Homo sapiens: one gene and its partner. The protein of the gene in region 1 interacts with the protein of each later gene in a biochemical or structural test. Each region holds a gene or a part of one and is shown on either strand. Other genes may lie near its edges. The genes, in order: PARPBP and RAD51.

Region 1 (2,752 bases):
TAATTATTTTTCTTTTACATCTGAACTTGTTTTCAGTACTTCAGGAATCCATTGCCTTGTGATGGTAGTTTTCTGAAATTGTACTGGGGTCTCTGAGGAGTTTAGAATTTGTCTGTGGGGGAGGCTGAATTGAGGAAATCTAGTTGTAAGGAGAGCTATTGCGCTTATTTTGTGACTATTTGCATAGCAAGCAAAGATTTTTTTACCTAGACTATATGTTAAAAATTAATAAAAGTAACAAAACATTCTAAAGAAATTTTTGTTTGTGCTAAACATGAGATTGAAGAAACATTAGTTTTCTGTACTAAATAATATAATTATTATTTAGTATTATGTTTTTATTTAGAATATTTTATGGGTGGTGCTCATGAGAGTTTTGCAGTGAGAAGCTAACATCTCCCAAGCTAACTCTAGGTGCCATCACTATTGGGTTACAAAGAGTGATCCAAGCCAGCCACTCAGCATCTATTTGCCTGCGTGGTCTTACTATACTCTTTATAACTCTTTATAAGCAATAAGTTTATAATTCTCTATAAGCCATAACTTTTGTGAAGTGAAAATAATGTGTGATAAGATAATGTCAACAGTTAGTACTGGTTTTGCAGATGGAAATAAAAGTTCATGGATAATGCTACTATTATGTAGTATAATATAGAGTCAATTTTATTAATAAAACTTATTTAAATAGGTTTATCTACTGCTTTAAATCTGTAGTTATAGGATTAATAAAGTCCAGAAAGAGCTACTTAAAATCTTCAGTTACATATAGGGCATCTTGAGGTAGAAGCTATTTAATAAGTGTTGCATTCATAGGGATTCATGAAGGTAGTGGGTTGTGAGTCCATTCTGTTCAACTTTTAAAAAAATAGTTTTTGATCTTGTATATTTTCACGTTTATTTTCAGTTTTGTGCATTTTATGCTTAAATGGAAGATAAAACTCCAATTGTCTAATGCTTCATGTAAGCACATGAAACATAATTTTTAGTGATCTGGGAGATGGAGACTGTCACAGACCTCATTAGTCAGAAAGATAGAAAATTTGTCATCCTAGGAAAACTTGCTTTTATGAAGCAGCTGGACAGACGAATATTCTAACTTTTTCTAAGTCATAGTCAGTAGATTTCACTGCCATTGTCTTTACAAACATCTGAGTGAATTAATGCATCGATCTTTGAACATATAATATATAACTACTGAATATATAAAGTCATGCTGTTTTAGATTTCATGACTGTATCAACAAATACTCTGTAAGTAATAATCAGGGTAATGTAGTTATACTCGAAGTGTTACATTTTTGAATTACTGAAGTCATCTTTATTGAATTATGTATTTGAAACTTTGTCTATGTCAGAAAATGATTTCAGGTGACTTCTAATTATTTGGAGACATCTCTCCATTAAACCTGAATGGTATTACACATCATTTGTAATTGTTGAAATTGGCATTATTTGTATAGGCTACTTTGTTCTAAAATTAATTTCTATCCCCAATAGCTCACTGGTTTATGTTTGTGGAACAAATTTCCAAAACTACTTTTTTTGGCATCCTTTTCAGTGATCAAGAATTGAGTTCATCTTTGTAATTTTCTCCTATTTATGTAGAAAGTTAGGCCCTCCTATTTGATGTTTGAAGATAAATGCAAGAGTATACTTTGGATTTCTGACCATTAAGTCACTTGGTCAAATCTTTCTAGACTGATACATTGAATCATCTTTCTTGTTTTCCTAAATACTCGAGAAATAATGTCTTTCCTATATCATTTTGTTTTATCTTGCAGTTTCTTTGCTAGTTTCCTGTTTTTGATTGACCTCACTTAGTTCTTTTTTTCATCTTAGCATTTCTTCCCTCCCTAATTTCTTGAATTCCATATGCTATTTTTTTTCCAAGAGTGTGTTCTTCTTAGGATGAAGAACTTGTATTTTTCTATGATTATGTATATCACCTGTATTGTTATTTTACTTACAATAAGACGCTCCAAAGCAGTGCTGACACAGGAACATGTAACAAAGCCCTGCGAAGAGTCTAAAATTGATTGTTTTGTAACTGTTACCAAAAAAAAAATCAAAAATATACATAAAGCTATTATTTTGGAAAAGAACAAAAATGCTAGCCATAACAATGAATGAGTTTGCAAACTATGAAATATAAAAGGTTAGAGAGAGGTTCTCAATGAGTAATAGAATTTCTAAGGGAAATTTTTATACCTTGATTACTATAGAGTGTGTGTCTATCTAGATGAAGAAATAAAATAATGAATAAATTTGCATATTTTCTTCTTTCTTTCTGTTACTAGATGAAGCAAACTTTAATTAGATCCCAATTTGCTTGTACTTATAAAGATGACTACATGATAAGCAAGGATAATTGGAATAATGTTAATTTAGCATCAAAGCCTTTGTGTGTTCTTTACATGGAAAATGACCTTTCTGGTAATTGACCTTATTTGTGCAATTAAATAACAATTTAATTCTAGTCTACTAATTAGTTTTAACTTAAGTAAAATTAGGTTATTTTTGCAAAGTACTATGAAATGTAAAGGGTAATATTTTTAAAGACCTCAGTTTATTTAAAAAGTTAAATCTAAGTACAAATTTATCGATAGGAATAGGACACAGTTTGATTTAACTAAATGTATTTAAGAAGTAATTTGTAGCATATGTTTAAGGATTAAATGTCATGCATTCAAACAAATATTTCTTAATAGGGCTGACAAGTTGATTACTGGCCAAAGCTAACTCAGAGGTGCTAT
Region 2 (3,833 bases), on another chromosome or scaffold:
ACAAATAATATAAAAATTAGCCAGACGTGGGCTGTGCCTGTAGTGGCAGCTACTTGGGAGGTGGAGGCGGGAGAATCGCTTGAGCCCAGGAGGCCAAGGTTGCCATGAGCCAAGATTGTACCACTGCTCTCCAGCCTGGGCAACAGAGCAAGATTTTGTCTCCATCTCAAAAAAAAAAAAAAAATTAAGATCCTATTTCAGAAGGTTAAGAAGTTTAAACTTGATTTTATGAAGAGTAAGCATTAGCTGGTCAGGAAACTAAGATAGTGACAATAAAGAGAAGTAGGGAAAAGATGTTGTAAAGGGCAGCGCTTGATGACTGACAATAAAAAATACACCTCAGCCCAACAATGTATTACAGTAACTTAGTAAACCTAAAAAGTGTTTGAGAGGGGAAGACAGTTTTGTTGGAAACATGAGTACAGGTTTAGAGATGACAGGTTTGAGGTGACAAACCCCGAGTGAAAATTTCTAGCTGTATTGAGAGATGTGGAACTAAGTCACACAGAGAAGTAAAAATGGAATCTGGAAACGAAAGATCCATGAGAAAGGAAGGGAGTAGGATATAGAAGAGAAAGCTAACAAACTTTCATCTTTTCTGCAACTTCAGGCAGTGTAATGGGGAGCCGTTTTTCCTTGTCTAAGTGAGTCTTAATGTTCTCTGGCTTTAAGGATGTGCTGCATAAGTGGCCAGTCCACAAAGTATCCTTGAACCTGGCCCATGCCCATGGACCAACTCTTCTGTTATAATCTTTTGAAGCTTTATTATAATTTTAGTTATTTTGAAAAACATGGCATTATTTTAATCTAGATAGATTATACCCACTTCTGCCATGGGCACAACTTACTGTTGGAGATCAAAACAACTGAAACAAAATCTGCCTTATATCAGTGTTACAGAAGAGGCTTCCTAGTGTTTTTCTATCCTCGGGACTCAACTCTGTTGAGTTTTTTTTTCTTTTCTTTTCTTTTTTTTTTTTTTTTTTTGAGAAAGAGTCTTGCTCTGTTGCCCAGGCTGTAGTGCAGTGGTGTGATCTTGGCTTGCTGCAACCTCTGCCTCCCAGGTTCAAGCCATTCTCCTGCCTCAGCCTCCCGAATAGCTGGGATTACAGGCATGACGGCCACCACGTCCAGCTAATTTTTGTATTTTTAGTAGAGACGAGGTTTCACCATGTTGGCCAGGCTGGTCTCAAACTCCTGACCTCAAGTTAATCTGCCCGCCTTGGCCTCCCAAAGTGCTGGGATTACAGGAGTGAGCCACCGTGCCTGGCCCAAGTTTATTTAAATTTAACATCAAGTAACCTAGCTTGATAGCCTCCCATTTTTCTTATTTTCCTTTTTTTTTTTTTTTTTATTTGAGACGGAGTCTCTGTCGCCTAGGCAGGAGTGCAGTGGCGCAATCTTGGCTCACTGCAACCTCCATCTCCTGGGTTCAAGCAGTTCTCCAGCCTCAGCCTCCCAAACTGGGATTACAGGTGCCTGCCACCCAACACAGCTAATTTTTTGTATTTTTAGTAGAGACAAGGTCTTGCTGTGTTGGCCAGGCTGGTCTTGAACTCCTGACCTCAGGTGATCCACCCGCCTCAGCCTCCCAAAGTGCTGGGATTACAGGTGTGAGCCACCATGCCCGGCTTTTTGTTGTCATTTTAATTGTTTATTGCTCCACTGATATTTTCTTTGCAGACCAAAATGTTACAATTTTTTTTTTTTTTTTTGAGGCGGAGTCTCATTCTGTCGCCTGGGCTGGAGTGCAGTGGTGCCATCTCTGCTCACTGCAAGCTCCGCCTCCTGGGTTCACGCCATTTTCCTGCCTCAGCCTCCCGAGTAGCTGGGACTACAGGCGCCCGCCACCACGCCTGGCTAATTTTTTGTATTTTTAGTAGAGACAGGTTTTCACCGTATTAGCCAGGATGGTCTCGATCTCCTGACCTTGTGATCCGCCCACCTTGGTCTCTCAAAATGCTGGGATTACAGGTGTGAGCCACCGTGCCTGGCTGGCTGCCATATGTCTTATGAGACAGCCAAGCTAGCATGTCAGTATCGAGTAGACCTAATCCATTGTTAACTCTCCTCAGAAATAAATTCTTTTTTTTTTTTTTTTTTGAGATTGGGTCTCACTATGTTGCACCGGCTGTTCTTGAACTCCTGAGCGCAAGCAATCCTCCAACCTCAGCCTCCCACATAGCTGGGATTACAGGTGAATGCCTCTGCACCCAGATCCTCATAATCATTAGGAAGAAAGAGCTGAGGGGGAGGGGTGGAGGAGGATGCTTAGGAGACCTTTTATGATAATAAGGGAGGAAACATTGAGAAGAGGAAGAGTAAGTTATAGAAGCTATAGCTATTGCGTGAGCTCCATTAGAAATTTGATAGCTAAAGGGAATTAGGGCTGTTTAAAATGTCACTCTTACATCCGTCATTTGACATGATATGTGACCTTTTTAAATAGAAATGTTTTCCCATGTTTTGACAGGGACTTATGTAGAATAAGTATTTAGACTACAGTACATAATATCTATAGTTGCCATGGCAACTCAGCATAGCATGCTGACACTCCAAAGTTGTACAAATAGAATCCTAATCTGAGAATGTTTAAGTAGTCAGATAATGTCTGTCAACAATAAACTAAAGCAAAATTCTCAAGTAAATATAGCCTGTTAAAATAACATTTACAGATGGCTGAACAACTATATAGATCGTTGACTTTTTTTAAAGAAAAAGAATGCTAATTAATTAATAATAGAAAAGATTACATTTCATCAGCCTAAGAGCTGGAACCAGGGATATAGAGAGGATGTTAGACTATTACTTAAATCTAAATATTATCTACTCTCATTTGTTTTCTCAATTTAATGAAGTAAAACCCCATTATATGTTAGGTCTCTCTCTAATAGAAAAGTCATAAAGTTGAGAGCTACAGTTAGGTTACAAAATGAATTAGCCCATGCTTGTTCAAAGTACTGCAGTAGTTTTAAAATTCTGGGCCGGGTATGGTGGCTCATGCTTGTAATTCCAGCACTTTGGGAGGCTGAGGCCGGAGGATTGCTTGAACCCAGGAGTTCCAGACAAGACTGGGGAATATGGCGAGATCCCATTTCAATTAAAAAATAAAAACAGTTCTGAGAAGACAATTTAACATAAGTACCAGTTTTAAAAGCACATGCCCATGCGGGCATGGTGGCTCACGCCTGTAATCCCAGCACTTTGGGAGGCTGAGGTGGATGGATCACAAGGTCAGGAGTTCAAGAACAGCCTGGCCAAGATGGTGCAACCCTGTCTCTACTAAAAATACAAAAATTAGCCAGGCGTGGGGGTGGGCGCCTGTAATCCCAGCTACTTGGGAGGCTGAGGCAGAGAATTGCTTGAACCTGGGAAGTGGAGGTTGCAGTGAGCTGAGATCGTGCCACTGCACTCCAGCCTGGGCAACAGAGTAAGATTCTGTCTCAAAAAAAAACCAAAAACCAAAAAACCACAAAACAAAAAAATCACATACCCTTTGACAGAAAATTTGTCTTACAGAACATTTCACATATATGCAAAGATAAATGTACAAATAATTTATACCAAAGCATAATTAAAATGGTAAAAGTTAGAAACATACTGCATCACTATAAAATGAGAAGTGTTAAATTATGCTCCTAAGCAGTTATTAAGAAGAGCTAACCTGATGGTATCCCAATCCAGTAACAGAAGATGGCTATGATGGCACTGGGAGGGCAAGGTAGAAAGGGCCAAATAAGCTGGAGAACAGAGCATGCAATCCATCCCCATGATCTTACCCTGGGAGCTTGTCCACTATCCTGTTGTCAGTCTACCTACCTATTCCCAATCAT

The links.
Region 2: the proteins of PARPBP (region 1) and RAD51 form a complex in vitro, tested with the Homo sapiens proteins (one study listed by BioGRID).

What each region holds. Positions count from the first base shown.
Region 1 is NC_000012.12:102,193,016-102,195,767, forward strand, and holds part of PARPBP (PCNA-interacting partner), read left to right. Parts: intron 1-2,296; coding exon 2,297-2,432; intron 2,433-2,752. UniProt on the Homo sapiens protein: Required to suppress inappropriate homologous recombination, thereby playing a central role DNA repair and in the maintenance of genomic stability.
Region 2 is NC_000015.10:40,711,910-40,715,742, forward strand, and holds part of RAD51 (DNA repair protein RAD51 homolog 1), read left to right. Parts: intron 1-3,833.